Regions from separate parts of the Homo sapiens genome. Here regions 1, 2 and 3 are each linked to region 4. The links come from fine-mapping of genetic effects on gene expression. A gene starts in region 4. Each other region holds a variant in brackets. All regions are shown on one strand. Distances are between the middles of the regions.

Region 1 (7,887 bases), 49 kb after region 4:
TTTGTTATTGGCATTCAGAAGTCCCCTTTCGTACCCGATTGCACCATGGGCATGGATCACAGTGAGCACATATCTCAAGTCTGTATAAACAGTCAAGGCCTTGTCCTTTCTTCATGCCAGGGCTCTGGTTAAGGCTATTATCTGAGTCTTTGGGGCTGAAGTTTGGGCAGGGAAGCTTTTGGCCTCTATGGTTTTCCATAGGGAGAGAACCACATATCCTGCCCTTCTTTCGCTCTTCCGTGAAGCTATGGCCATCTACAAACCCTATGTCTTCCTTTCCTTTTTCAACCACATCTCTGCTACAGAGAACCTTGAAGGTCATTTCTACTAAATGCAAGCGGTTAATATTAGGAACTGAGACTTGTGTTTTTCCCAGGCATGTCCTCAAACTTTGGCTAAATTAACCTTTATTGATTGAGACACCTGTCTCAGTCATTTTTTGGTTAACACAATACAGATAAAGTAGGATCCCTATCTCATATTACACATAAACATTAATACAGATGGACCAAAGACCTAAATATGGGGGATGGATCAGTAGAAAATACGGGAGAATATCTCTATGACCTTGGGACAAGGGCTGAGTTTTTAAGCAAAACACAAAATGCTCAAATCATAGAGGAAAAGATTGATAGTCGCCTGTGTTACAATTTTAGATTTGTGCTTCAAAAAGACACCCTAGGAATTAGGGGTGGAAAGGAAGCAAGCCACAGAGTGGGAGCAAATATTTGCAATTAATGCGCTGAACTAGTAAAAGACTGGTATCCATAAAATTATAAAGAACTACCAATCAATAAAAACCACAACCCAATAGAAAAATGGGCATAAAATACAAACAGGCAATTCTCAGAACATGAAAACAGAGTAGTCAATAATTACATAAAGAGAAGTTCAAACTTACTCAAAGTAGGGAAATGAAAATCAAAGTTATAATGAATATTACATTCCACACCCATCAGGTTGGCACGCTCAAACTGTATGTTTAAGATGCTATATTTAATGTTATTACAATCAAACTATGTTCAAGTTTTTTAATATGCTATTACAATCATTATAACAGCAAAAAATTGGCAACACTCCAAACGCCCATTACAAGAGGATGGAACAGGATATAGAGTGGATATTAGCGAATTAGGCCCATACATCTGCGTGGGAGCATCTCAGAGAACGCAGGGGCGAAACGCCGGAAGGGCACACAAACCAAGCCCCGCCCCCGGGAACCCCGCTCCCACACGGAGCATGCTGGAGGCTGATAGGTTGGTTTGACCACGCCAGTTCCGCCTTCGCCTGCCCCCTTAGAGCCCCGCCCCCGCGCGGAGCATGCTGGGGACATACGGACTCACTTTCCTCGCCAACCCCGCCCTCCGGAGCTACCAGCAACAACCAACGGGCAGCGAGCAACGGGCGCGCGCTGCTCCCTTAGGAGGCGGTGACCATCTGCCCGTGTGCCCAGGGCCTCTGAGGGCGCTGGATGGCTCCGTTGTGTCCGGGTGGTCTCGGGAGCTGCAGGGAAGGGGCGGGAAAACTACACCGGACCCCATGGGGAGCGCAGAGGCGGAAAGGGAAGGGCCTAGGGACCTCAGATTGTTTTGAATCAAGGGCAGAAAGATCGGGTCGGAGGGAGGGAAGGAAATACTTCCGTGCCTTCAGAGGGAGTCTAGAGTCCCAGGCCGTGCCGGGTGGAAGGAACTGTGCAGCGTCCCAGAGGGAAGGAAGAAGAAGGGAAGAGAAGTGGACTCAGAAAAAGTGGAGGGGAAAGAAGGGAGATGGGAGAAATGGAGGGCAGAAGAGGCAACGTTCCCCAGCCCTATAAACCATAATGAGCCCATATGAGAAAGCAGAAAGGTGGGTGGGAAGTGGGGGGCTAGAAAGGAAAAGAAACAAAAGCTGTCTTGGTCTGAGTCAGGAGCCCAGCTGTTGTGACAGGAAGGGACCTCAGAGATGGCTTTCACAGGTGGCTGTGACTATAGCTCTTTCTGGTGCCTCAAGCTCCCTCTTAACCCCTGGGAGACTTTTACCTTTGGGAGAGATTTCCCTTTGGGTTAAGGAGGGGAAAGAGGGACAGAGGGACAGTGGCAAGGGATGCCAGGAGAAGGTGAGGGAGAGGACACATGAGTGTTAGGTTTTTGAAAAAAGACGAGGGTTAAAGACAAGAGAGTTGACCACTCTACAACACAGGTTTATTAACACAACCTACAGAGGTGGGGACCAACTTAATGCCAAAGCCCCACTAGCACTTACAGGCTGGAATCATTATAGGCCTGGATGAGGGGTCTGGAATGGTAGGACTTACTGCCCAAGAGGATGTTAATAAAAATATTTCTTAAACCTTTGTCCCAACAAGATGTGATAAAGAAGTCAGACAGTTGGGGAGGATGTTACTTACAGCCCAAACCCCTGCAGAATGTTTCACTGTGACCAGGGTCTATGAAATGGCAGGAAGATTTACAAAATAATACAGCTTGGACTAAAAATTAGGGCCCAGCCTGGGGAGAGCTAGGCACTGATTTTTAGAGAAGTCTATGTCTTTGGCTATGCCAGAAGCACTGCAATCTTATTTCAAGGGCTTCTGGATGTGGTGGACTAAGTCTAAGACTAGGGGGTCCAGAGAAGACCCCATCCTTAGTAACCCTTGTCAATAGGGAGACTTCTCACGGAATCTGCTCTTTGGGTTTGACCCTCTGTCTTCATGTTCATGCCTCATTCATCTTTGTTAGGTTTTGAAGGGAAGGTGAGGGTTAAAGAGTTGGCAGCTTAACAGCAACACAGGTTTATTGCCAGCACAAACCTGTGGAGGGGGGACCAGCTTAGTCTCAGAGCACGAGTCCCACTTACAGACTGGGACATTTACTATAAGGAAGAGGAAAGCAACACGAAGGGTGGCTGGGCAGTCAACAAGGACAGGTTTATTTTAGAAAATAAACTTGAGAGGGGCTTCTGGCCGAGTTAGCTCAGACTAACTTCTGTTACAGACTAAGGATATTTAAGGGTTTTGGAAGGGGTCTTATCGTAGGTTCCGAATGTTTCTGTGTGAGGGAAAGTTTATTGCGGGGTTGGAATGTCTCTGGTCGGAAGGGAGGCTGTCTCGGGGTTGGCATGTTTCTGGTCAGAGGGGTTTATCTTAGGGTTGGAATATTTCTGGTTATGCTGACATTAGCCATTAGGCTGATGTTTTGGGGCTGGATTTAGGCGGCTTTTAATGAAGGGGGAACTTAGAATGGTGGTATTTGTTCAAGATGGCAGTGCTCCTGCTCTGTCAGTTATGGGTCTGGACCGGGGGAGAAGGGGCAGTATAGCTTGCTCCCCTGCAGGATGTTGAAGATGTTCCTTGGGCCCTTCATCCAGCAGGATGTAATAGAGATGTTCCTGTGGTTAGGTGGTTAGGCAGTATTTTTTTATGACCTGAACCCCCATGGAATGTTTTATTCTGACCAGGTTCTGTGAAATGTTGGGAGACATCTGCGGCCATACTGTAAGGCTCTTGTGTTGGTTCGAACCCCGAGAGCTTGCCAGCAAAGAACACAAGGCAGTGTGGAGCAACACGCTGTTTTAATGAGCACCTGGGTGCAGATGGGCTGAGGCCTAAAATGGCGTCAGCCCCAGGTGAGGACGGGGCAGGGGTTTTATAGTCTCCTGTAAACAGGAAGTGTCCCAGTCTGATGTAACTGCTACATGGTACCCAGATGGCCTCTCTCTTGATCTTCAGGGGTACGTGTCTCCTGGCCAGCTCTCTTCCTGCTTCTGCTATCTTGCTGACACACGCTGCTAGCACAAGTGGTCTTGTGCCTTGGGACTGGGCCTGAGAAGGGAGGAGTTATTCATCCCCCCAAACTTTCAGGCCCCGGGGAGAATCTTTCACATACCACCCTGAACA[C/T]GCCCAATCTCGTCTGATCTCAGAAGCTAAGCAGGGTCTGGCCTGGTTAGTACTTGGATGGGAAATGATCACAGGGAGGCTTACAAAATGGTATAGGATATCTTGTGGTTTAAGCCCATTCCCTCCGGGAAGACCTTGTTGGTTTTCTCCCTACAGAACCTGCTGTGTACAAAATGGTGTAGGATATCTTGGGGTTTAAGCCCATTCCCTGAACCTGCTATGACATTAACTGAACAGCTCCTGGGGGTGCATCCCAATAGGGAAGTTATTGAGCTCCCAATGTTTTCGTGAAGCTGCTTTGTCAACTGTGAAATAATTATTGCCCTGCCCACTCCTGGGGTTGTTAGAGACCCAGTGAGATACTAAAAGTGTGTTTAAAGCATGTAGGGTCTGCAAATGCAATAAAGTGTGGTCAGAAAGCCCAACTCACGTGGCTTTGGGGGCCACTGGTGAGAGAAGAGACTGGAGGCAGCCTGTTGTGGTCAGAGCCTCCTGCTATTGTCAATTTCTCCTCACTGTCCCCTTTACCAGGAAGGCAGTGTCAGTTTGATCAGCTGCCAGTCTGTTTGCCCTCATTCCCCCTGGCCCTGCCCTGAGTCCAGCGACCTGGATTTGAAACCTGCATCTGTCACTTACTAGCTGAGGGATCTTGGGCAAGACATTTCAGCCCTTTTCTGCTTAAATAGAGTTAAGACAGCCTATGAATGAAACTATATAAACCAAGGCATTTCTGACTCCAGTAGGAGGCAGCTGCTGTGAGGGAGAAGCCCTGGCCAGGAATCTGTTATAGTTATTTTGTCACCAACTGGAATGGCCTTGGGACAAAGCACAACAGCTGTCTTGACCTCATCAATAGCCTTGACCTCATCCCTCGTGTCATGCTGTGTCATCTTCAACATCTGTCACTTCCATCAGCCTTAGCATTGGCCTTGGCCTCAGTTTCCTCATGTGTGACTTGAGGATGATGATTCTTATAGGAATCAATAAGCTTGGGATAAAGAAGCTATTGGGTCACATTATACATACTTTAAATGCATTAAGTGGGGTCTGCAGTTCCTAGAGATTAGCAGATTGCATTGCGTGAGAACAGAGCCATAGAGAATGTTTGAGGTCCCATTAATAGCTGATAGGAGGCTGATCAGTAAACACTGGGAGGGGAGGATTGACTCTTGGGTGAAGAGTTGGAGGAGGGTGGAGGATTGAGTCTTGGGTGAAGAGTTGGAGGGTGGAGGATTGAGTCTTGGGTGAAGAGTTGGAGGGTGGAGGATTGAGTGTTGGGTGAATTGAGTCTTGGATGAAGAGTTGGAGGGTGGAGGATTGAGTCTTGGGTGAAGAGTTGATTGGAAAACAAAGCTGAACAGAAAACCAGGGCATCATCAACACTGATGAGTAATTTTTTTTCTCTATAAAATGATTATTTAGATTAAGAAAAGGAATGACAAATTTTGAAAAGCCGACAAACACCACAAACTCCAGAAAAAAAAGAATCCTGACATTTTTACTAAGTGACAGACACACCTTCGCCTTTAAAACACTCTGTCCCCCCCATATTTCTTGGCTGCAGACTCTTTGATCACATTTTCGTGTGACAGTGATTTTGTAATATTTTCTATGGGGAGAATAGAAAGATAATTCCGTCTCTCCTTTGGCAGTAGGCATGTCCCTGTGAGGGAGGAGATCAGCAGGATTTTTCCAAGCACCTGTCAAAACCCTGCTGATCAAAACAGAACATAACAATAACAAAGAATGGCCAAAACCAGCTCGGAATAGGAATTAAAATGCATTTGCATAAGATACTCCCACCAGGGCCATGACAGTTTACAAATGATCCCACGGCAATAACCCAGGAATTATCTTATATGGTTCCAGGAACTTCCTGTTCCTAGTTTATGAATAACCTGCCTCTTATTTAGCATATAATTAGCAGGGGGTATAAATATAGCTAGCCAGCAATCCTGGAGTGCTATTCTACCTGTGGGGTAGCCCTGCTCTGTCTGTGGAGCAGCCATTTTGCTGTACAATGTTGCTTTAATAAACTTGCTTTGCTTTCAGTTTTGTCTGTTAGCTCACTCTTGAATTCCTTCCTGAGCAAAGCCAAAAACCCTCCCCGGCTGAGTCCCGATACGGGGATTTGCTTACATCAGCCAGAAGTAATTTATGCACAAAGATAACTATAGCAATTTTTAGTAGATACAGAAGTGACTTCAAAGCCCAGAAATGTGTCCCACTAAACTCATACAAAATGATCCCCAATTTTACCTTCTCCCTTAGCCATATCCAAAATAGCCACAGCCATTCCAACAGGACAGACGCGTGACAGAGGGAGAATATGAACTGAAAAGAGACACTAGGCCTCAACCAACTTGTAAAAATGTCTTCTACATATTTTCCAAAAGCACATGACAAAAGCATTGATAGGGCTCCTCCCAAGGCAAAGAGGGCCCCTGAGGGTTAAGCTTAATGTTGTCTCTGAAGCCACCTCTGCTCTGAATAATCGCAGCTGCACCGGTTGCAGCTCGCTCTTCCCCCAACATGTCCCACCTCACCCTCTCAACAATACAGTGGGGATGTTCTGAGATTTGTACCCACCGCCTAAAAGAACCCTCCTCTGGGTGGGATGAGATTCTCTGGCCCTTAGCAGGGCTCTAGCCTGCCCTGTCCTCTCCTACACATGCACCGGCAGTAAAAGCTGAACTTTGAACCACAGGTGCACTTCTTGAAAGGGGGCAGAGTGGGAGGCAGAAAAAACACGTTGGATCCTATACATGCCTTTGGGAACCCCCAGTGAACTCTCGGGGTTCCGTGTCTGGTCATCTTTACACTCCCTTCTAAGACTGCTGGGAGGAGCTATTGAACACTCTTGCATGAGACATCCACAAGCATAAAAAACATGGCAGCGGGGGAGGGGAAATGAGAGAGAAAAAGAGGAGAAGAATTTGAATAAAAGACTGTAGCTTGGAAGAGAAGGCAGTGGGGAGGGGCACCCAGATCTGGCCATCCTCACTGTCCCCCTGTTGCTGTGCCAGAGGCTGGCCCTGCCAGGAAAGCGTCATACCTTACCTCAGTTTCCCCTTTAAAACAGGGTTGCTAATTCCTACCTCACAGGGTGGTCCTCATGAGGATAACATGAGATAATGTCTGGGGAAATTGCTTGGGAAAGTGTAAAAGGCCACTCACACAGAAACCCCTCATGACCCATGTGGCCAAAGTGGGGACGTGGACTTAGAGGCCCTGGACCCAGGCCTGGGCCCTGCCTTGCCTGTCTGGGGAAATGGTCCTGGCCTTTACTCAACACTGACCCTGCCTTGGGAGGAAGAGCCTGCCCAGGCCAATCTCCCACGCCCTGACCGAAGCAGGTGCCGTCAGACAGAGTCCTGGCTTGGGAGTCAGAGGGACTGAGCTCAACACGTGGGTACCCTAGAACCTGCGCCTGGATAACTGAGTTGCTGATGCAGCCTGAAGGGGTGGGTTGCCCCTCCACACCTGTGGGTGTTTCTCGTTAGGTGGAACGAGAGACTTGGAAAAGAAAAAGACACAGAGACAAAGTATAGAGAAAGAAATAAGGGGACCCAGGGGACCAGCGTTCAGCATATGGAGGATCCCGCCAGCCTCTGAGTTCCCTTAGTATTTATTGATCATTTTTGGGTGTTTCTCAGAGAGGGGGATGTGGCAGGGTCATAGGATAATAGTGGAGAGAAGGTCAGCAGATAAACACGTGAACAAAGGTCTCTGCATCATAGACAAGGTAAAGAATTAAGTGCTGTGCTTTGATGTGCATATACATAAACATCTCAATGCCTTACAGAGCAGTATTGTTGCCCGCATGTCCCACCTCCAGCCCTAAGGCGGTTTTCCCCATCTCAGTAAATGGAATATACAATCGGGTTTTATACTGAGACATTCCATTGCCCAGGGACGGGCAGGAGACAGATGCCTTCCTCTTGTCTCAACTGCGAAGAGGCATGCCTTCCTCTTATACTAATCCTCCTCAGCACGGACCCTTTACGGGTGTC
Region 2 (7,887 bases), 30 kb before region 4:
ACATTGTTCAAAAGCATAGGGAAGAAGCTACAAAAAATATGAAGCATAAATTGTGGCTCTTTTTTATTCTGAAGTGTAAATTTGAACATTATATCTCAAAATATAAAACAAAAACAAAGAAAGCTAAAAGCCCTTCCATTTGGCCATCTTGGAGTAAGACCTACCACAGTCCAGTGCCTTTTACTCAGCCCCACAGCCTAGCCTATTGTTTACATGAAACCCTGTAGCTTCCACCCCTGTTTGACTGTTGGGTGTAAAGTTATGAGTGACCATATTGGGGGAAGGGAGGAAAACTCCCCATAAACGTGTATCCTGGGGGCCTGAGGAGAGACGATGGCCCAGGTATCAGAACATGATATGCCTACTTGTCCCTATCTCCTTGTCCACACATAAGGCTTGGAAGGCAGCCATGTTGTATATCACGTGATCGCCAACCAATGAGCTGATTGGCTTCTTCAACAAGAGCCCAGGTAGAGATTGGTGTCTAGAGGAGCCCATCAGTTTCTAGAGAATCAGGCCTTTGGCAGTGGAAACTCCCCTGGGAGGATGTCACAGGGTCCTCAGGGTCAGACACAGAGAGAAGGAGACATTGGGACAGAGAGAAGAGGCAAGAAAAAAACATACCTTGCAGTCTGTGAGGAACAAGGTGGCCCCTAGGGGCCTCCAGCCCAGGTTCTGAATCAAAGCTCCTCAAAGTTTAAGGTGCATTTGGATCACCTGAGGATCTTATGAAAATAAACTCTGTCTGATTCAGTAGGTCTGGGTTTGGGGGTGGGAGCCTGTTAGTATATTTCTAACAAGCTCCCAGGCAAGGCTGCTACTGCTGCTGATCTAATGACCACAGTTTGAGGCTGGACAGAGTGGCTCACACCTGTAATCCCAACACTTTGGGAGGACAAGGCAGGAGGGTCTCTTGAGGCTAGAACTTTGAGACCAGCCTGGGCAACGCAGCAGGACCTCGTCTCTAAAAAACAAGAGAGAAGAAGAAAAAGGAAACAACAAGAAGACCTCAACTAGAATATGAAGCAGCTAGGCCACATATGTCTTCAATGGAGAAAAGAGCTTTTTCTTGAGTAAATTGGAGTGTACCCATGTTCCTTGTCAATGATGGTAACTTTAAATGTCAAGAATGTGAGAGAGGCCAGGGGTGGTGGATCACACCTATAATCCCAGCACTGTGGGAGGCTGAGGTGGGAGGATCACTTGAGCCAAGGAATTCAAGAGCACCCTGGGAAACAAAGTGCGACCCCGTCTCTACAAAGTCAAAAAATTAGCCCAGATTGGTGGCATGCGCATGTGGTCTGAGCTACATGGGAGGGTAAGGCAGAAGGATTGTTTGAGCCCAGGTCGAGGCTGCAGTAAGCTAAGTTTGTACCACTGCACTCATTCCAGCCTGGGCAACAGCAAGACCCTGTCTCGAAAAAAAAAAGAATAGTAGAGACCAGGGGAAGGTGTGGCCCTGGGGTAGGCGCTGGGAGACTGGAGAACAACTGTTAGTGGTCCCATCACTGCCCAGAGCAGACAGTGCCCTGTCCACCCTCATGAGATCTTTGAACTCCTTGGACAGGACTGGCTATAAATGAAAATGTGGGGACCCTTATTTTTAACTTGTTAAGAATGTTAAGATGGCAACAGCAAAGCTTTAAACCAAGTGCATGGCCCTTCTGCGTTGTAGGCCCACAAGGCCGACACTGCTATTCACATCCTTGTATGGTCCCCTCCCCTTGAGTGTGGCTGGGGCCTGTGCTCTACTGCTTGGAAGCAAGGCTTATCCCTAAGCCTTATTTTCGGGAAGGTGGATTTGAGAGCTACTATCCCACATCCTTGCTTGGTGCCCTGTGAATAAATCTTTTCTCTTTTGCAAAACTCGTGTCATGGTGATTAATTTACTGTGCAATGCCAGGCACTGTTGGAAACCTCTGGATAGGCCTCACAGGGCCTCAGCCATCTCGGGGAGGCGTTAGCTAGAGTGTAACAAATATGACCCCAGCAACTGGGGAGGGACAGCTCATTCCTTCATGAGGTGTGGGGCTGGCAGCCCCGCAGGCAGTCAGCCACCCTTCCTCTCTGGCCTCCGTCCTGGGCACTGGGCCCAGGCACTGGGCAAGGAGGCTGCTGCACCTCCTTTCTCCTCTTCCTTTTTTTTTTTTTTTTTTTTTGAGACGGAGTATGGCTCTGTCGCCCAGGCTGGAGTGCAGTGGCGTGAGCTCGGCTCACTGCAAGCTCCGCCTCCCGGGTTCACGCCATTCTCCTGCCCCAGCCTCCCGAGTAGCTGGGACTACAGGCGCCCGCCACCCCGCCCGGCTAATTTTTTGTATTTTTAGTAGAGACGGGTTTCACCGTTTTAGCCAGTATGGTCTCGATCTCCTGACCTCGTGATCCACCCCCCTCGGTCTCCCAAAGTGCTGGGATTACAGGCGTGAGCCACCGCGCCCAGCCTCTCCTCTTCCCTTTTAGTGGGAAATATACCTGCAGCCTAGATTCCCAGAAAGGGGTGGTGAGAGAGCAGACACGCCACTGATTGACCCAAAGTTCTAGGAGCCAAGGGATGAGTGAAGAGGGCGTGGCCGGACTCGGGGCTCCTGGTGAGGTGCACCGCTGCAGGCTCGGTGACCCAGCAGTTCCTGCCCATCCCTCACCTACCCCCAGCCGTTCCTGTCCGCCGCCCCCAACCAGCCATTCCTGCCCGCAGTTCCTGTTCCCGGGCCTGTCCCCGGGTTTGTCCCCAGGGCCCGTCCCCTGGGTTTAGGTCTGCCCTCCGACGCCCCACCCCATTGCCCCCGCCATGGGTCTGCTGTCCCAGCCCTGCCGTTCAGTCTACATCTTCGCCAAGAATGGCATCCCCTTCGAGCTTCGCACAGTGGAGCTGACCAAAGCTGGGCTGGGCAGGCAGGCCCAGGGGATATTGGCCACGAATCCCTGCCTGTCCCCGCTGCTTTGCAGTCGGGCCAAGAATGCAGACTAACACGAAGAATCAGACTCTCCGGTGTGGAAACTATTACATAATTATCTATGTTATTATTTTTACTTTTTGGAGACAGCATCTAACTCTGTCACTCAGGCTGGAGTGCAGTGGCACAATCATGGCTCACTGCAGCCTTGACCTTCCAGGCTTAAGCGATCCTCCCGCCTCAGCCCCTCAAGTAGCTGGGACTACAGGTGCCCACCGACATGCCTGGCCAATTTATTATTATTATTATTATTATTGAGAGGAGGTCTTGCTGTGTTTCCGAGGCTGGCCTAGAACTCCTGGGCTCAAGTGATCCTCTTGCCTTGGCCTCCCAAAGTGTTGGGATTACAGGCATGAGCCGCCATGCCCCACTGGTTGTCTATTTTAATAGAGGCTTGATCTTTGCTTGTGAATACAAAACATTCTTCAAAATACAGGTTTAGAGAGGGCACAGCAGGCACAGAACGAGGGTAGGGAAATGGAGTGGGGCAAGAATATCTTCACCCCATGTGCTTGGAAAAAACAAACTGCCTCGTTGTTTCCTAAGTAAAATAGTCCCTGTCTACCCCTGCCTGTGTCTCTTCCACTTTTTTATTGTTTGTTTGTTTATTTATTTATTTATTTATTTATTTATTTATTACAGTGTCTCAATCTGCAGCCCAGGCTAGAGGGCAGTGGCATGATCCCGGCTCACTGCAGCCTTGACCTCTCAGGATCAAGTGATCCTCCCAACTTACTCCTCCTAAGTAGAATAGTTGGGACTACAGGCACGTCCCCGTGCCCAGCTACTTTTTTTTTTTTTTTTTTTGGTGTGTGTAGACGCGTGATTTTGCCATGTAGACCAGGCTGACCTTGAGCTCCTGAGCTCAAGTGATCCTCCTGCCTCCTCCTTCTAAAGTGTTGAGATCACAGACATGCACCACCATGTCTGGCCCTGGGTCTCTTCCACTTTTATGTATTTCTTGGCATTCTTCTG[C/T]CTTTTCTTTTTCCTGCATCTGACTTGCTCTATCCCATGGGGCTTCTCACCCAGCTGAAGGGGCTACTCCTAGAGGCTAGAGGCTGGAGGGCCCTGTGGCAGGGCAGTGGGGGAGGCCAGCACCCTCACCCTGAGCTCCAGCGTTTGCTGGTCTGGCTGGCATACAGAGATGCAGCTGGAGCACAATTCAGTGGAGGAGGCAGGGCTATAACTAAGCAGTAGGGCAGAGAGCAGAGCCAGAGCCCCCTGGGCAGGCCAGAGGGAGGACCCTGCTCAGCTGACTCTTCCCAACTGCTGCCCTTGGTACAACCAGCTTGAGTCACCTGCTACAGAACAGGGGCTGGACACAGAAGCAGTCTGTGGAGGGAGAATGGGCAGGGGTGTGCATGTCCATTCAGTAGAAGGGCAAAGAGGCCCACATGTAGGCCTATGATCAGACTGGAGCCTGGCTTGACTGAGGTCCTCTGATCCAAACACCAGGCACCTAATGCGGCCTCTAGCACTGGCCTAGAATGCTAAAGTGAGTCAGACCTGGGAACCCCCAGTGGGGAGGGAGCCTTGAGAGTTTGGCATAAGAAAGGAAGAAGAGCTGAGCCACCGGGGGCTGAGTGGCTGAATGGGGCAGGGATTCCCAGCAAGAATGAGGTTGGTCTGAGGGTTGGGAACATGTTTGGCTGGGACTCTGGGGTATTGACAGGTCACCCAGCCTGGCCAGTAGGGCCTAAGTCCCCAGCTGGGATAGGAAGCTGAATCAGAGGGGGCAAGCCTAGAGCCCAGGGAGGAGGCTGGAGGGGTCTGACCTATGGATGGAACTGGCTGGGGGTGGGGTGTGAATTACAGCTCCAGGGAATTGTCCTTGAGCCATGCTTCAAGGAGCTGGACACAGGAAAGATGGCCCTCTGATGGGGTCAAGGTCTGTGACCCAGTGACTAGCAGAGAGGCTTCCTCTTCCCTGATGCCTCCCAGATAGGGGCCTCAGAAAGCTGCTGCTGGGATTTTGGGGTGGGGGTGGGCAGAGACCTCAGAGAACTCTGGGTTATCCCCACTCACCTCTCTGATCTCTCCTGCAGGCCAGCAGCACAGCGATGCCTTTGCCCAGGTGAACCCCCTGAGGAAGGTGCCGGGCCTTGAAGGATGGGGACTTCACCTTGGCTGAGAGGTAACCGGTCCGTGGGCTGCTGCCGGGCCTTGTGGGGCCAGTCGGCTGTCTGTTCACTGTTGATGGCTTGGATCATGGACTGTGGGCCCTGCACCAGCCCCAGGGTGAAGAATGGGTGGAGGCAGGCAGTGGTACCCAGTGTTGACAAGGGTTATAGAAGTCCCCTCCTGCATTGTACAAGTGAGGAAACTGAGGCTGGAGGAGGGGAGGGACTTGCACAAGGCCAGAGGGCCCAGTCTGCTTCCGGGCCTCCTCACCGCCAGCCTTCCCCTCCGAAAAAAGGAGAGTGCTAAGTTTCGAGGAGCGGCTGTACCAGGCATCTTAGTGCTACCATTTTGCCCACAAATCCTGTGGGGCAAGTGCTGTTTCCCTGGAGAGTCGAGGGACCACTCAGCGAGCTTCAGTGGCTATTTGCTAAACATCCACCAGGGCCAGACCCCATTTAAGCCCTGGGGCTTGAGCAGTGAACGTGTCTACGTCCTTCTCCTCATGGATCTCACATTCCATTAATAGAAGGGGGAGCTGACAGTAACCCATGTAAACATGGAACATATCGGATGTTGATGGATGCCATGGAAAAAATAAACAGGGTAAGATTGGGGGTGTGTGAGTAGGATGTTGAGGGAAGACTCCCTGGAGGAAGTGGCATCTGAGCAGAGAGCTGTAGGAATGTGCAAGGCATGAGGAGAAGGGTGTTCTGGCTGGAGGGAAGAGTGATGGCGAAGGCTCCAGGTGGGACAATGCATGGGGTTCAGACTGGAGAGCAACGGGCCAGGGTGGGTGTAGTGAGCAGGAAGAGCAGGAGGTCACGACAGAGGGGAGCATGGGACACTGGGAAGGCTTTGGCTCTTACCGCAGGGGGATTGAGTCGCTGGAGTATTTTGAGCAGAGAACTGTGATCTGACTTACGTCATAAAGGATCCCCCTGGCAGGGGTGAGAAAGCCACTGCAGTCATCTGGCATGCAGCGCTGGAGCCCCAGACCAAGGTGGTGGTGGTGCAGGGTTGGTGGGGTGATGGTCGGTTCTGACTTTTCTTGAAACTCTAACTGCAGGGTGTGCTGAAGGGTTGGAGGTGGGTGGGAAAAATGAAAGCCAAAACCAGCCTCCAGGTTGGTGGCCGCATGGTGGCGTCCTTTACCGAGGCCACATAGTGCCTCCTTGGTGGAGCTGGATTCACATTCAGAGCCTGGGATCACTGGATGGTCCAACACCCATAGAGGCATGATGAGCTCTGGGGGTCAGACTGCACAACCCTTCACCATAGGTGAACAGGAGATGGGACGGGGTGGGGAGCAATGCTGCCATGTCACCTGGAAGGCTCTCTCCCTGCTGGCCTTGCTCCTGGCCCTGTCCATGCTTTGGATATGTTGGGGAGATACCCAACTTGCTCTCATTCTTCAGACTCACACTGGGTGCCCCTTCCTCCTGGAAGCCTTCCCTGAGCCCCTGCTGAAGTTCATGACATTTTGTTTCTTCCTTGCTGCCATTAGTTGAGATGATAATCTGGCCCCGTGTAGGGCTGTGTGACCCTGGGCAGTTACCTAACCTCTCTGAGCCTCACATCCCTCCTCTGCATCATGGGGATAGTGAAAATGCCCCAGAAAATGGCTGAAGAGTGTTCAGGGCATGTCTTCTGCCCCTGCCATGTCCCCCCAGTGTGGCTAGCTTGCTCTATATGAGCTGCATGTACAAAGCACCTGACCACTGGTACCTCCAGGACCTGCAGGCCCGCGCCCATGGGGATCAGTACCTGTCATGGCAGCACATGGCCCTGCAGAGTAGCTGCTGCTGGGCCATGTGGCAGAAGGTGAGCCATGGAGGGCAGGGACACCTCCCGGGATGCCCAAGGGATGCTGCTTTCACTTTACAAAATCCTGTTTAGACCTGAGACCAAATCCTGGAATGCCAGAGACTGCCTAATTCACCCAACTTGTTTCATAGGAGGGAAACCAAGGACCAGAGCCAAGGAAGGATTCCCCTAATGTGCCTTAATTCCACAGCTACCACCTGCACACTTACACTCACACACTGTTCGACACACAGCCACGCACACTCACACACACATCCACCCACGTCCACCCACAGTCACACGATGTATCACATTCACACATATACACCCACACACACAATCATAACATTTACACACAGTCACACAGTTAACTCCTGTACACACATATACACCCACACAATCACATAATTCACTCATATTCAACAGTCACACAACTCACTCACATTGACACACATACACACCAACCCCACACACAATTCACATACATACACACACATATACACCCACATACACAACCACACCATTCACTGACATTAATACAAAGTCATCACACAGTTCAGTCACACACACACACACACCTCACACACACAGGCACACAATTCACACCAACAAAATCACACAGTTCACTCACACACATACACCCACATACACAAATTCACACTGCTCAGTCACATTTACACACCATTCAAATTCACACACATATACACCTACTTACACACAGTTCACTCACACCACACACATATACACCCACATACACACAGTTCACTCACATCACACACATATACACCCACATACACACAGTTCACACACATCACACACATATACACCCACACATAAACAAAGTTACACAATTCACTCACGTTCACACACACAGTTCACTGACATTCACACACGTACACACGCACCACACACAGGCAATTCAGTCACATGGCCGAAAGCCATTCCTCACCTTGCTATGGTTCCCTTCCCAGTGTCACCTTAGCCTTTGGCCCTCAGCGTCCCCTTCCCATGC
Region 3 (7,887 bases), 43 kb before region 4:
TAGGTCACCCGGATAAACCTGGACAACCTGAAGCCAGCGGGCAAGGCCCAGGCTTGAGGCTGGCTCCTCCCCAAATGTCCCCAGCTCATCCTTTCAGAGTCCTAGGAGCTGGGCAGACCCAGGGGAGACTCCACATTCAATCCCAGCTCACCACTTCCTCAATCCATGCCCTTGGGGAAATCACAGAACTTTGTGTGCCAGGTTTCTCCTCTGTAAAACGGAGTGGGAGGAATAATGTATCCACCTCCCAGGGCTTACCTGAGGATAGAAAATGGGCACCTAGTGTTCTGGGGCACTAGGAAGGGAACTTGGAGACCTTTTGGGCAGGGCCCACACGGCAGGCACTCTGAGTGGGGACCCTGATGCCAGGGAGTGGGGCCTGGGCACAGAGGGCAGGATGGTATGGTAACTGGGAGGGGAGGTGGAAACATGGGCCCAGGGAGGATCAGAGTTGGAAATGGAGAAACAGAGTGGTTTGGTCGTGGGGAGATACTGCCTGGAGGGAGTTGCAGTATAGGGGAGGTCCTCCCCTGAAGGTGAAGGTGGGGAGAAAACCTGGTCAAATCACCCTGAGTATGAGCAATGAAGCCACCTGGCCCTGACAGGCTGGAGAAAAGATCTCTGACACCCCCTGCCCACAGCATGGTCATCGTTTTATACCTGAGTCGAAAGTACCAGATACGGGGACACTGGTACCCACCTGAGCTGCAAGCCCGCACCTGCGTGGATGAGTACTTGGCGTGGAAGCATGTCACCATCCAGCTGCCTGCCACCAATGTCTACCTGTGCAAGGTGAGCTTCCTAGGCCCTGTCATGCAGGCTGGGGCAGGGGCCTGGACCCCCAGAGATGGAAGGCACCAGTTGGTACATATTACATATTAGCTTCACTTCCACTGTCCTCAGCAGACATAACTAATCTATCACAGTACTCCTTCCCCTAAGCCTGAATGAATCCTTAGAAACCTTCTGAACACAGAGCCCCAGAGGACATCACTAATGAGTGGCAGCCGGGAAGGGATGGAGAGGAGGCCCAAGAGGCTTCCAAGAGTCTGGGTTAAGTTGCTCCTCTCCTCCCAGCCCAGTCTCTCCTGCCCCACTTCTCCGGACAGCCTGCAGATGCTGCACAGCTGGAGCGGCTGTTGGGGAGGCTGATGCCAGCCCTGCAGCACCTGGATTGGGGGGTGCTGGTGGCCAGGCCCTTCCTGGCAATGGAGCAGATCTCCCTGGAAGACTTGGTGCTGACGGAGGTGATGCAGGTGAAGCTTTCCTACCCACCTGCCCTCTGGGGGGACTCTGGGCATGGGGCTGAGCCCCAACCCCAGCTGCCCTGTCTTCCCAGCCCACTGCCGTTGGCTGCGACCTCTTCCAAGACTGCCCCGGCTGGCAGTGTGGCAGGCCCGTGTGGCGGCTGCCCTTGGTACTGAGCTCTTGCTGGAGGCCCACAAGCTCATACTCCAGCCTCTGAACCACAGTGAGGCTTGGCGGGACCCCCAGCTGGCCCAGAAGCAGGTGCAGTGGGTGCAGCCCACTCCACTGCACCCTGCTGTCTGCAATAAACACACTGCATGCTCTTCGCTTGTCTCCAGGCTTACTCTGTCACCAGAAGTGGGGTCAGTCCCATTTCTCAGCCTAGACCTATTAGATCACAGCATAGAGTGAGTGGCACTCAGTCCTCTACGTGGGGCTCTAGTTACCTTCCTTGGCCACCAGGTACACAGTCTGGCCACTGCAGCCCCAACCAAGGCCAGGAAGTTTCTAGGCTCCTCTGTGTGGCACACACCGGCTGAGTGCCCCCTGACTTCCTGGTGGTGGTGTCCCCATTGCTCCCAAAGCTCACAGTTTCCTGTGTCTCTTTCTCCCAGTTCCTTTCTAGTCATAGTTCAGGCTCGATTCACCTGTGTCTCTTTCTCCCAATTCCTTTCTAGTCATAGTTCAGGCTCGATTTACCTGTGGATACTCCCAGCCTCTACTTCTAGAATCCTCCAGGGATAATTCTCATTGCCTCCTCTTCATTCTGGACCCTGCAAAGCCCCTTTCGTCAGGTTCTGCAATGAAAATCCAGCCGTGGGAATTCCCAGGCATAATCCCTTCTCAGACTGGTGTCTGTGAGGTGGCACCACGGGGCACAGGCACACGTGGAAGGGGGAGAGTAGGGTCACGGCTGCCACACCTTTGCCACGGGCCTCTCCCCAGCCTACTCCTGGGCCTCCTTAGAATCCTTGATGCTGTGAGAATTGCAGGCTTCCTGGCCTTATGACAACACAAAGGGAAACAAGAGGTTTCCCTGGGGAACACAGGATCCTGGGCCCAGATCGGAGAGGGCACAGGGCCAGGGACTCTGGCCAGACATAGGCCCAGGTCTGTGGCTGGCCAACTGCGGCTGTGGGGCCTGGCATGTGTCTCAACATGGCACTGGAGCTCTACATGGACCTGCTGTCAGCACCCTGCCGTGCCGTCTACATCTTCTCGAAGAAGCATGACATCCAGTTCAACTTTCAGTTTGTGGATCTGCTGAAAGGTCAACTCCCACTGCTGCCTGGCAGGCCTGGTCCTGGGGGGAGGCAGGACACACAGATTGCGGCTTTTCTTTTTTTCTTGTTTTTTGATGGAGTCTCGCTCTGTTGCCCAGCATGGAGTACGGTGGTGCTATCTCGGCTCACTGCAACCTCTGCTGGGTTCAAGTGCGTCTCCTGCCTCAGCCTCCCAAGTAGCTGGGATTAGAGGTGCATGCCACCACGCCCAGCTAATTTTTTGTATTTTTAACAGGGGTTTCACCATGTTGGCCAGGCTGGTCTCAAACTCCTGACCTCAAGTGATCTGCCCACCTCAGCCTCCAGAGTGCTGGGATTACAGGCGTGAGCCACCGCGCACAGCCTGATAGGGGCGTTTCTGAGGAGCAGAGACAGAGACAAGGGAATCACCCCAGAGGTCCACAGGGAAGGAAAAGATGCCACGCGGCTTGTAGGCTGCATCCTTGTCCAGCCTACCTTAGTCAGTGCTCACTAATGACAGTCCCCACGCCACAGATGAACAGGCTTTTCGAGGAGAAGGGGGAAGGAACAGTAGCTGGGACTCCCTGGGCTCCCACCAGGCACCCTGGCTTCCTTGTGGGATTCTAGGACCTTGTGAACTCAGCACCTGCCCACCAGGTTGGCAAAGGGGGCAGAAGTGCACAGTCCGTCTACACCCATCCTCCCCAGTGTTGAGAAAGGCTCAGGGCTCCACTAACCCTGAGTGAGGGTCAGAGGGGTGGGCTCCAACTCCATCCCCAGCACAGAGGGACTCCAAAAGCTCAGCCTGCAAAAGCAGAAGCCTCTAGAACACAGAGGAAGAGACAGGGAAGCTGTGGAAATGAACGGGCTGCGAGTGGAGCCCCCAGAAATGTTTCCAACTGGAGGCGGCTGGTCCAGGAAGAGTTTCAGTTCCTGCCCCCACCTCAGGTTCCCTGTTAAGATGACCCTGATTGTGTCCGAGAAGCTTCCCTTTGGATGTCCAGCTGTGTGCTGGGCCTGGCTTCCTTAAAGTGGAGACAGAGTGAGAGCGATGGGATTGCGGATGGGACCCAGGCCCTCAGGGCTTCAGGTGATTCAAAGGCTGTGTTTTCAGATCCAGCTTTGGGGGTGGGCACTGGAGGCCTCCAGCTTCTGGGTAAAAGGGTCGTCCTGGTCCTGGGACACAGGTAGGAGGCACGGGAGTCACCAAACCTAGGGTGGAGCAGGCTGGGAGCCAGCAGTTCTGATCGCAGTCCGGTTCTGCAACTGCCTTGCCCTGTGACCTGGGGTGAGACGCAATGTCCCTCCGGGCCTCAGTTCCCTCTTCTTGAGAAAATAGAGAGGGAGGCGTTTGGGTCTCTGGGAGTCTCAGTTCTCTCTCCCCTGGAGTCCCACAGCCTCAGACCTTCCCTGCCCCTCCCAGGTCACCACCACAGCAAAGGATACATTGACATCAACCCCCTCAGGAAGCTGCCCAGCCTCAAAGATGGGAAATTTATCTTAAGTGAAAGGTAAGTCTTCCCTGGGGCCCTTGCACCATCTGTCTCTGCTTCTCCTGGGAGGTTCAGTGCAAGCATTTGTCTGTTTGACCATGGAAAATCTCACACGTGCACTAAAGGAGAGTGAATACTAACTAATGAGGGACACGAGGAACCCCACAAATCCATCGCCCAGCTCTGACTCTTGCCAACTTGGGGTCCAGTTTACATCATTTCTATTCCCCTGCCTCCCAGACACCCCATCATTCCATTCATAAATGTTTAGAAGCCAGCTCATGCCTGTAATTCTAGCACTTTGAGAGGCTGAAGTGAGGGGATGGCCTGAGCTCACGTGTTCAAGACCAGCCTAGCCTAGACAACATGGCAAAACCCCATCTCTACAAAAAATACAAAAATTAGCCAGCATGGTGGTCTGCACCTGTAGTCCCAGCTACTCGGGAGGCTGAGGCGGAAAGACTGCTTGAGCCAGGAGGCAGAGGATGCAGTGAGCCAAGACTGCGTCGTTGCACTTCAGCGTGGGCAACAGAGTGAGATCCCATCTCAAAAATAAAAATAAATAAGTAAATAAATCAATAAATGTTTAGGAACATACTTTTCAGAGATAAGAGTTCTTAAAACAAACAAAAAAAAAGCAACAGGCTGGGTGTGGTGGCTCATGCCTATAATCC[C/G]AGCACTTCCAGAGGCTGACACGGGAGGATCGCTTGAGGCCAGGAAGTTCAGAACTGCAGTGAACTCTGATTGCGCCACTGCACTCCAGCCTGGGCTAGGATAGAGCGTAGCATCACTACGATACCATTAAGATACCTCATAAAATTAACAATAATTCCTGGATTTCATCTAATATGTGGCTCCTGTTCAAAACTCTATGATTATCTCCTAAACATTTTCTTGGCAGTTTGTTTGGATCAGGATCCAAAGAAGTTTTTTTTTTTTTTTTTTTTGAGACGGAGTCTCGCTCTGTTGCCCAGGCTGGAGTGCAGTGGCGCTATCTTGGCTCACTGCAAGCTCCGCCTCCCGGGTTCACGCCATTCTCCTGCCTCAGCCTCCTGAGTAGCTGGGACTACAGGTGCCCGCCACCATGCCTGGCTAATTTTTTTGTATTTTTAGTAGAGACGGGGTTTCACTGTGTTAACCAGGATGGTCTCGATCTCCTGACCCCATGATCCCCCCGCCTCGGCCTCCCAGAGTGCTGGGATTACAGGCGTGAGCCACCGTGCCCAGCCAAGAAGTTCTGAGTCTTGCAGCCAGTTGCTGTCTCTCCTGCCACTTTTTAACCGATAGCTCTCTCCATGCCCTGACCTTTTTACCTTGGCATGGTTGCTGCTGGTGATGATAAAGGAGCCCTTGTTCTGCGGAGGTTCCCACACCAGCCATCAATCAGCAAGGCCTAGGACATCCCCTCCGAAGCATGTCTCCCCTCCATCCCCTTCCCTCTGTCCCCATGGCCTCCAACATTCCCAGACACCACAACCTTCCCGATAGTTGCTGGCCCCCTCATTGTCCATTCTGCCCCCTCGGGCTCACCCTCCATCCAGCACCAGAGAGATGGATCCTTTCATGCCCTGGCTTATATAATGCCTAATCTTAAGCATTAAGTCCATAACCTCCCTGCACCTCCAGGGGCTACCCTACGTGGACTCCACAGTGTCTCTGGCTGCCTCATCACTCCCCAATCACCCCCACCCTTCTTCCAGTTGCAACCCCCTACTCTCTTTTCTTCAGATTTACCTTGCTCCCTTTACCCTCGTATTTCAGCATGTGTTTTTCTTTGTTGGTTTTTTGAGACAGAGTCTTGCTCTGTGGCCCAGGCTGGAGTACAGTGGCACAATCTTGGCTCACTACAACCTCTGCCTCCCAGGTTCAAGTGACTCCCGTGCCTCAGCTTCCCAAGTAGCTGGGATTACAGGTGTGTGCCACCACAACTAGCTAATTTTTGTATTTTCATTTTAGTAGAGACAGGGTTTCACCATGTTGGCCAGGCTGGTCTCCAACTCCTGGCCTCAAGGGATCTGCCCCCATTGGCCTCCCAAAGTGCCGGGATTACAGGTGTGAGCCATCGTGCCCCCCCGTTTTTGTTTTTGAAAAAGGATCTTGATCTTTCACCCAAGCTGGAGTGCAGTGGTGTGATCTTGGCTCACAGTAGCCCCAAATTCCTGGGATCAAGTGATCCTCCCACCTCAGCATCCCAATTCAACACGTGTTGTTCCCCCTGCTGGCCTACTCTTTGTTATACCACCAGCCCCCAACTCCTACTCACCCCGCAGGGCTCCTTCCCAGCCCTTACTGACTGTCAGACAGACAGCTCTGGTGAAGGTCTTTCTCGGGGCCGTTTGGGCTCCTCTTTGCTCTGGAAGCCCCAGCAGTTGGGCCCAGGCCACACCGGGGTGGTTGATGTAGTGGCACTCAGGAAGGCAAGGGCAGTGCCCCTGACCGGCCCCTTCTGCAGCGCGGCCATCCTTTACTACCTGTGCCGCAAGTACAGCGCACCATCGCACTGGTGCCCGCCAGACCCGCACGCACGTGCCCGTGTGGATGAGTTCGTGGCTTGGCAACACACGGCCTTTCAGCTGCCCATGAAGAAGATAGTCTGGCTCAAGGTGAGCAGGGCCACTTCTGGGGCTTGGGGACACGGGCACAGGGAAGTCAGGAAGGCTGGAGGCCAGTTCTGGCCCTGCTGACTGCCGGCGACCTCAAGCAAGTCTCCCTCCCTCTCTGGGCCTCATTTCCTCAGCTCCTTCTCCTGCCCGCCTTACAGAGCCGTCAGGAGTGTGGACTGAAACAATGGGCATGAAAGAGTCTTATTAGGGCGAGGGGAAGGGCATACGGGAGGGGCTGATGTGACTCACCCAGGACAGCATTCGAGGCATTTCATTCTGAACTAGAGAATCTCAGCGTCAAAAGGCCCACAGAAGGCCGGGTACGGTGGCTCACAACTGTAATCCCAGTACTTTGGGAGGCCGAGGCGGGCAGATCACTTGAGGTCAGGAGTTCAAGACCTACCTTGCCAACATTGTGAAACACCATCTCTACTAAAAATACAAAATTATTAGCTGGGTGTGGTGATGGGCACCTGTAATCCCAGCTACTCAGGACGCTGAGGCAGGACAATTGCTTGAACCCAGGAGTTGGAGTTGGCAGTGAGCCAAGATTGTGCCACTGCACTCCAGCCTGGGCGACAGAGTGAGACTCCATCTCAAAAAACAAAAACAAAAAAGAGTATGGCCTATAGAAAATTAGAAGATGACAAATAACCAGTACATGTGTCTCTACTTTGAATTCTATGCCTGTGACAGACATCACTAATCAATCACAGGACTTATGCCTGCTGAGCTCCCCAAATCCTTGTGAACACATGGTTCCCAGCAACTTCCACCAATCAGAACTGCTAAAAGAGGTGAAACTGCTTTATATCCTGGGAAGTGTTCAATATCTATCCAGCAGACAAGAGTACAGAGACCTGGCAGGGCAGGTGGCCCTGGAGTGCAGCCTCCTCTTCCCTCCTCTTCCCAACCCTGGCCAGTTGCTGATCCCAAAGATAACAGGGGAGGAAGTTTCAGCTGAGAAGATGGAGCATGCAGTGGAAGAGGTGAAGAACAGCCTGCAGCTCTTTGAGGAGTATTTTCTGCAGGATAAGATGTTCATCACCGGGAACCAAATCTCACTGGCTGACCTGGTGGCCGTGGTGGAGATGATGCAGGTGTGGAGTGGATTGGAGGAGGGTTAGACCCTGGGCAGAGGTAGGACTCCTCTGTGACCAATGGGGCCATCACTTGAGGATAGGCTGGTGAGGCGGGAAAGGCAGGCAGAGCTGCCATGGGGGCTGCGGGAACCAGGCCTGGGGGCCTGGACTCAATCGGGGCAACAGGAAGCACAGAATGTTATGAATCAGGAAGGAT
Region 4 (7,887 bases):
GGAGACAAAAGGAATGCAGGCATGATATCTGGAGGAACTGTGGACCAGAGCCTTTGCAGATATGTCTTCTCTTCAACCAAGGAGACGGACAGCTCCATGTCTTTATTCTACCAACACAGCATCCCCTCAGTGGCTCAGCAAGTGTGGGACACGCACTCACAGCAAGAAAAGCTGCATTAAGGTCTTCAGATTCTCTTTAACAGCAGGTTCTACTGGAGGCAGGTCCTTGGCCTTCAGGACAGCTGGGAGGGCCTCCTGGAAGAAGTCCTCCCGCACTGCAGCCTCCACGTGTTGGGCACCATGCTGCCACCGTGGGTCCGCTTTCAAAGACTCAGCAGCCAGCACTGATGGGCTAGGGGAAGACAGAGTCAGCGGAGGGGCTGGGCATAGCCAAGTGTAAGGCAGCATGACCTGCTTTAGGGGTTCTCTGATTGGATTTTCCCTCCTCCACCATGTGTGTGATGGGCTAGGATGTCCCCCTCCCTGGGGACACTTGGAAGCCTCTTAATATAGCTGCGGTGAGGGGTTTGTAAAGCCCCATTTTATAGATGAGGACACTGAGGCTCAGAAGGAGAAGTGACTCACACAGGGTCCCACAGCCAGAAAAGACAACATGAGCTGGGATGTCAGCTCCCTTCCCGGATACACCACTGCCCAGCGGGCCACCGCACCCCATGGCACTCTCATGCCTCAGCTCCGTGATTGCCACCAAGCCAGCCACAGAGATACGGGGCCCAGTAAGGAAGGCCTGGTCCCGCAGGAACTTGTCCTCGAGCAGCTGCAAGCATCCGTCCAGCTCAGCCAAAGTGGCCGCCAACATCTCGGGTGGCACTGACTCGCCCAGGAACACAGGGATTATTATCTGGTGGGCCGACAGGCAGAGAGAGGGGTCAGGGTCTGCCCAAAGCCCATCCTGGTTCCCACCATCATCCTATCATCACCAGTCCTTGGGATTTCTGCTCACCTCTGCTCACTTCTTTCCACTCATAGCCACCAGTAGCTCTCATCTCCTACTCAAACAGGGACAGCCTCCCCCTTCTCCCTGGGTCCTCACACAAGGCAACCAGTGGGATCCTTCTGTAATCTCAATCTGCCCGTACCCTCTCTTGCATAAAGCCTTCCATGGCTCCCCACTGCCCTCATGAGAAAGGCCTCAACACAAAGCCAGCCTTCTCCAGTGCGGTAGCCATCCCCTCCCCACTTTTCACCTCACCTCCTACTACCCCCCACTTATCAAACGGGAATGTGTGTATGAATCCTCCCTGGAATCTGGTTACAGTTTATGCTCCCAATCAGTAAGGTCAGAGTGGGGCCTGAGCCTCTGCATTTCCAACAAGCTCCCTGGTGATGCTGATACTCCCAGTCCATTGACCACACTTTGGATAGGAAGAGTCTACACTTGCTCTACTCAACTTCTCTCCATTCTGTCCTCAAACACACCACGCTTCCTTCCCCACCAGCTGGAGGGGGCTCTGCTCCCAGGCCCCAGAGGTCAAGGCAGACACAGTTAAGGTGTGGAAACCTCCTTATTGCCCGATGGATCCTCCAGAGAGGCGGTCCCTTACTTTCAGCAGGGCGCGTGTCTACCTGTTTCATGCTGTCTCACACACAGGGTGCCACCCCTGTGCTGGGCACTGGGTAAGTGCTCTGTACATATTAATTAGGAGTACTCATTTCAAAAATATGTGTGCCTTTGATAAATAAAAACAGTATGTGCATGTTGTGTTGGTGTGTGCTTCCTTGATTATTACTGAAGTTAAACATGTTTTCATCCATGTATTGACCATTTCTCTTTGTCCTTCAATGAAACCTCTGCTGATTTCCTTCGCTCATTTTTTTCCTGTGTCTTCGTCTGATGAGTTTCTCTTCTTTTTGTTTGTTCGTTTGTTTGTTTTGAGACAGTCTCGCTCAGTGGCCCGGCTGGAGTGCAGTGGTATGATCTCAGCTCACTGAAACCTCTGCCTCCAAGGTTCAAGTGATTCTCCTGTCTCAGCCTCCCGAGTGTGCCACCGCACCCAGCTAATTTTTGTATTTTTAGTAGAGACGGGGCTTCACCGTGTTGCCCAGGCTGGTCTCAAACTCCTGACCTCAACTGATCCGCCCATCTCTGCCTCCCAAAGTACAGGGATTACAGGCGTGAACCACCACACCCTACCTGTCTGATGGGTTTCTAAGAACATCTTAAAGGACATTACTTCCTTCTGACGTATCTTTTACCGAGATCCTTCCCAGTTTTTTGCTTAAGGTTAATCCATTTTTTCCTCCACAAAGTAACCTTGTATATGTATTGGTTTTTTCTTTGTTGAGTTCTCCCACTGTTCTGAGGCTTAGAAAGTCCTTTCATACCCAGACATCAGAGAAACAGATCCCGTGAGAGTAACTGGGATTGCAGGTGTGGGCCAGCATGCCCTGTTATCACTCCCTTTCTCTGAGTCAGCTTTTCTCTCTCAGTCTCGTCTACTCCTCGAACTCAGGAAATGTCACTACAGGTGGCCCCAGCTCCCGTTTACCTCCCCATAGGGAGCTCCTCTCTCCAGTTCCAGTTTCAAAACTCCCAAGGAAGCATTCTGGTTCACTCGCTTGGGCCACTGGCCAGAGGGATGGGATACTCTGAAAGATTCAGCTAGAGTCCCGGGCCCAGCCCTGGACCATCACTGTGCCCCCTGGTGAGATGCCAGGGCTGGGATTCAGGGAGAAGAAAGGAGGTTCCCGGACAGTCATTCCTGCCTCCCGCGGCTGCGGGCTCCCTGCCCCCATCCTGTGCACGAAGTGGGAGCTCCCGCTGTCTGGCAGCTCCCGCTGTCTGGCAGCAGCTGCTCTGCAGGGGACAGTCTGGACGGCAGAAAGTTCATCCTTAACCCCAGCCTTCCAGTCAAGGTTCCCACCAGTTTGGGACACCTGCAAGTGTCACATCCCACTGGGTGAAACTCTAAGATCCCTTTTAGGGGATCCCATTCGCTCCCTCCCTTCCGCCACCATGCAGCGCCGAGAAACAGAGCTCTGAACGAACCCTCAGATGTCCGTGCGCTGGGGCCTTTCCAGGACGGCGGCGCCCAGTCGTTTCTGGGTCAGGGCGACGCCTGGAACTGGGCAGGGTCCCTGGCACCGGGATCCCGAAAAGCAGACCTGCTTCTCCCTGTCCAGCCGGTTCCCCTTCCCCTTGCAGTCGGCCCCCTGCATCCGCGTCCTCCCTGCCAGTCGAGGGTCCCCAGCTCCAACTCCACCCTCCCAGCTGTGCGTTCATAGCGACCGCCCTCCCTGTAGGGACGCACGGATCTGGTGGTGGAGTCTTGGCCGGCAGGACTGGACAGGAACCGAAGGGGCGAGGCGGGTCCGGGGGTGGTGCGCTCCAATTGGGTGCTGTCCCCAGGGGGTGGGGCCTGATCCCCTATTTCCCGGCGCGCCGGGATCCTGCCACAGCTGCTGCCCACACCGCGCTCAGCGCCTTCACTGCCATCCCCGCTGTCCTTGCCGCCCCCGCCATGGGCCTAGAGCTGTTTCTTGACCTGGTGTCCCAGCCCAGCCGCGCCGTCTACATCTTCGCCAAGAAGAATGGCATCCCCTTAGAGCTGCGCACCGTGGATTTGGTCAAAGGTGGGCCCAGCCCGTTTCCCCGCGTGTCCACAAACCCAGTGCACCCCCAGGCCCCCGCCCTGCTCTGCCCTGAGCGTCTCGCCGCCCGCACAGCCCCCTCACCTCCTCCTGCAGCGTCTGCCACCAGAGAATGCTGTGGACTGAGTGGCCTTGGAGGGATCACAGCCTCTCTGAACCTTAGCTTGCCTTCTGAAAAGGAGGATAATGTTACCTTCTGCTCTGTAGGGATGGAAAGAAAATACTGAATGGAGTTGACAGAGTTCTTGCGTGGAATGCACGCATATAAATTCACAAAGCCCAGAAGACCTTGGGAAGAAGGACATGCTGTTGTGAGAATTAAGAGATGGGAAGAGATGAGCCACCCCAGTTTGCCTCCCCTCCCCTGGCCCACCAGAGTCCGGCTAGAAAACTTCTCTTTATCCACCTGCTGCACCTGGCCCCACCCACCAAAGCCCCCCAGCTGCCCCGGAATGTGGCAGGGCAGGGAGGCCCAGCCAGGGAGTGAGGCTGATCCAGGCCTCTAGTCCCAGACCTTGCTGTTTCTCAGGGCTGTGGGGCTCCGCTTGGGGAGGAGGAGGGAGGGTGTAGAGGTGCAGCGTTTTTATTCTGAAGACCTTTTCTGACTTCTTCCTCTTCAGGGCAGCACAAGAGCAAGGAGTTCTTGCAGATCAACAGCCTGGGGAAACTGCCGACGCTCAAGGATGGTGATTTCATCTTGACCGAAAGGTGCCCTCCTTCCCTCACCCCTCACCGCATCCGGAGCCCATGTGACCTTGGCTCTCCCCACTGGCCCCGGGCCCCAGTGGCCCTCCCATACCCCATGGGGCAGCGAGGGAGGGGAAAGGCGAGGGATCTGGCCGGGCGCGGTGGCTCACGCCTGTCATCCCGGCACTTCGGGAGGCCAAGGCGGGCGGATCACGAGGTCAGGAGACCGAGACCATCCTGGCTAACACCGTGAAACACCGTCTCTACTAAAAATGGAAAAAAAATTAACCGGGCGTGGTGGCGGGCGTCTGTAGTCCCAGCTACTCTGGAGGCTGAGGCAGGAGAATGGTGTGAACCCAGGAAGCGGAGCTTGCAGTGTGCTGAGATCGCGCCACTGCACTCCAGCCTGGGCGACAGAGCTAGACTCCGTCTCAAAAAGGCCGGGCGCGGTGGTTTACGCCTGTAATCCCAGCACTTTGGGAGGCCGAGGTGGGCGGATCACGAGGTCAGGAGATCGAGACCATCCTGGGTAACACGGTGAAACCCTGTCTCTACTAAAAATACAAAACATTAGCAGGGCGTGGTGGCGGCCGCCTGTAGTCCCAGCTACTGGGGAGGCTGAGGCAGGAGAATGGCGTGAACCCAGGAGGCGGAGCTTGCAATGAGCAGAGATAGCACCACTGCACTCCAGCCTGGGTGACAGAGGGAGCCCACTCCAGCCTGGGCGACAGAGGGAGACTCCGTCTCAAAAAAAAAGGAAAGAAAGAAAGGAGAGGTATCTGGGGAGAAGGTACAGCTTGGGGTGTGACCGGGATGAGCAGGGGCTGACAGAACATGTCCCCCCACCTCTCATCTTCCAGCCTTTTCTGAGCCGCAGGGCCTCTCCACTCCCAGACTGAAGGGTATTAGAAGAGAAGACAAGGGAACATTTTTCCACTGTTGCGCATTTGTTCAACAAATGCTAGCTGAAAAGAGCCTCTAGTGACTTGTTGCAGACTACCCAATCTACCCAGGCCGGGCCTAGAGGCCAATGCCATGGCCCAAGGGCACAGCTCATGGTGAGGTCCAGCTGCTGGGCAGGAAAAGGACAAGAGGTCAGGTGGCTGCAGAAGTGATGGCTGGGGGCCTGTCAGACGGGGGCCAAAGACATTCCTCCCCTCGTGATCCCTGACCCAAGCGCGTGGACATGCAAGGGACTCCACGGAGCATCCACTGTGTGCCAGCCCCATGCAGGGTTCCAGGGGTCCAGGGAGCCTATTCTGAGCTGCACCGCCTCGGACAAGTCACTTGACCATTCTGACCTTGAGTTTTCTCTTGTGCTAAAAGGCTAACAGGAGTGTCTACCTCACAGGGCGGCTGCTGGCATATCACAGAGATGAGGTTCTCAAAATGCAAAGCAGAAGGTCCAGCCAAGAGTCGGTGCCCAAGGCAACAAAGACAGGAGGAGACTCGTAGGAGGAGGGGGTGGTGTTGGGGAGCTGGAGATGGAGGGCGAGGCTGGAGGGCAGTCCTTCAAATGCAGAGAAGCCCCCGGGCCCCACTGGCAGATGGGAGCAGTTAGGGGTAAATGCCTGGTGCCAGTGTCCTTATAGCCACTGCCCATTTGTTCCCAGCTCGGCCATCCTGATTTACCTGAGCTGTAAGTACCAGACGCCGGACCACTGGTATCCATCTGACCTGCAGGCTCGTGCCCGTGTTCATGAGTACCTGGGCTGGCATGCCGACTGCATCCGTGGCACCTTTGGTATACCCCTGTGGGTCCAGGTGAGGAGAGCCATCTGGAGAGTGATTGGCCATCAGGGAGTAGTTGGCAGTAGGCCGGGGCCATAGACTGACCCACTCTCTGCCCCCATCAGGTGTTGGGGCCACTCATTGGGGTCCAGGTGCCCGAGGAGAAGGTGGAACGCAACAGGACTGCCATGGACCAGGCCCTGCAATGGCTGGAGGACAAGTTCCTGGGGGACAGGCCCTTCCTCGCTGGCCAGCAGGTGACACTGGCTGATCTCATGGCCCTGGAGGAGCTGATGCAGGTGTGAGCTCAGCCTGTGGGCAGTGTCCCTCTTCGTGTCACACCCATGAGGCAGACAGAAACACTGAGGCCTGGAGAAAGCCAGAACTTTGCCCAGAATCATAGAGCAAGTCTCTGGATGATCTGGGGCCAGAACCCTGAACTTCTGCCTCCTGCCTGGGTGTGGGGTCTCACCCTGGCTGCTCTTGGGCTCTAAGGCTGAACATACTGCCTGGGCCCCTGTGGTCCATTCACTTAGGGGCTGGGGAATGGACCATGTCTCTGATACTTCTGCCCATGGTTCCAGCATTCGGGTCGGCAGTGACAACTGGGAAAGTTGTATGCCCACAACTTTTTCATCCTTGTCCCTACAGCCGGTGGCTCTCGGCTATGAACTGTTTGAGGGACGGCCACGACTGGCAGCATGGCGTGGACGAGTGGAGGCTTTCCTGGGTGCTGAGCTATGCCAGGAGGCCCACAGCATCATCTTGAGCATCCTGGAACAGGCGGCCAAGAAAACCCTCCCAACACCCTCACCAGAGGCCTATCAGGCTATGCTGCTTCGAATCGCCAGGATCCCCTGAAGGGTCTGGGATGGGGGCCAGGAGATTAGCAACAAGGATTCATTCTGTTACTTACTTGCCCCTTTTTATCTTTCCCTCTTGCCCCAGTCCCTTCTCTCCAGCTTCATGTGAAGCTCTGCACAGACAAGACACTCAGTGTCCTTGGCAGTGCTGCTACTCCTCAGGTGCAGCATACATAACCAGTAAGAGACTAAATCTGCAATATATAAAGAGCTCCTACAAATCAGTAACATGAAGAACACTCAAAAATTGGCAAATGTCATCAGTGTTTTAAACAGAATAAAGATTCCAAACACTTTGAATAGAGAACCAAGAGTTATTGGTTTTACTACATTGTTGTGTTATACATATGGAGTAAAAGTATGTGCTAGTAATCCTCATCATGGTTAATAACAAAGTAACCTCACAATAACGAGTCAACATAATTGTATCACCAGGGCAACAAAATGTTAAGTAAGTAACCAATTCGAATTGCAAACTGTTAAAGGATATAGGCGATGTTTCACAGGGCATAGCAACGGTCTTTGAAGTCTAGGAAACTTAAAAGATTTCTTTTAACAAGCATTCATGTCTTCTAGGACAGTTTTGTAATAACTGCAAATAGTAAGATTATACATTGTCACACAGACCTCCATGTATATCCATGGGATGGACCCCACCACAATGATTTTAACGGAGAGAACTTGATATAAAGAATTGGTAACCAGGCATTAGAGAACTCCGAAGACAGAGAGAATCCAGATTAACACGGAGGTAAACACTGCAAGAAGCTACCACCCCTAGGGCTGGGGGATCAAGGGAGGAATTAGGAAGACCAAGATGCTGGAGGGGCCCTGAAGAATTCAAACCTCCAAGAAAGGTGTTGCTCATCCCCCCTAGTATCACCTTCCAAGAAGGGCAGGTTTCCCCAGTTTGCCCTGAGGTCTTCACAGGAGGTCATGTGGCTGTGGATGCAGTTCTCAAATGTGACAGTAGATGTCACTGCCGACCAATAAA

Evidence for each region. PIP is the estimated chance that this variant, and not a neighbour inherited with it, causes the effect.
Region 1: its variant is fine-mapped to the expression of GSTT2B in prefrontal cortex (GTEx, PIP 0.96).
Region 2: its variant is fine-mapped to the expression of GSTT2B in subcutaneous fat (GTEx, PIP 0.90).
Region 3: its variant is fine-mapped to the expression of GSTT2B in prefrontal cortex (ROSMAP, PIP 0.95).

Annotation. Positions count from the first base shown.
Region 1 is chr22:23,907,494-23,915,380 of GRCh38, reverse strand. No RefSeq gene overlaps it. Among named protein-coding and RNA genes, the nearest start is that of MIF-AS1, 13 kb to the right of the region's middle. RefSeq lists enhancers at 6,001-6,845, 7,692-7,887. The variant C/T (reference allele first, on the strand shown) is at 3,875.
Region 2 is chr22:23,986,325-23,994,211 of GRCh38, reverse strand. It overlaps a transcript of GSTT4 not described here. Among named protein-coding and RNA genes, the nearest start is that of GSTT4, 15 kb to the left of the region's middle. The variant C/T (reference allele first, on the strand shown) is at 3,927.
Region 3 is chr22:23,999,876-24,007,762 of GRCh38, reverse strand. GSTT4 (glutathione S-transferase theta 4) reads left to right here and starts at 2,310. Exons shown (of 5, transcript NM_001358664.2): 1 at 2,310-2,518; 2 at 3,916-4,003; 3 at 6,438-6,588; 4 at 7,512-7,688. The coding sequence starts at 2,407. LOC105372959 (a long non-coding RNA gene) reads right to left here and starts at 2,212. Exons shown (of 2, transcript XR_001755457.1): 1 at 2,171-2,212; 2 at 1-2,045. The variant C/G (reference allele first, on the strand shown) is at 4,660.
Region 4 is chr22:23,956,727-23,964,613 of GRCh38, reverse strand. It overlaps GSTT2B (glutathione S-transferase theta 2B), which reads left to right and starts at 3,419. Exons shown (of 5, transcript NM_001080843.4): 1 at 3,419-3,594; 2 at 4,233-4,320; 3 at 5,913-6,063; 4 at 6,156-6,329; 5 at 6,682-7,200. The coding sequence starts at 3,483. The coding sequence ends at 6,891. RefSeq lists enhancers at 4,533-5,198, 7,515-7,887.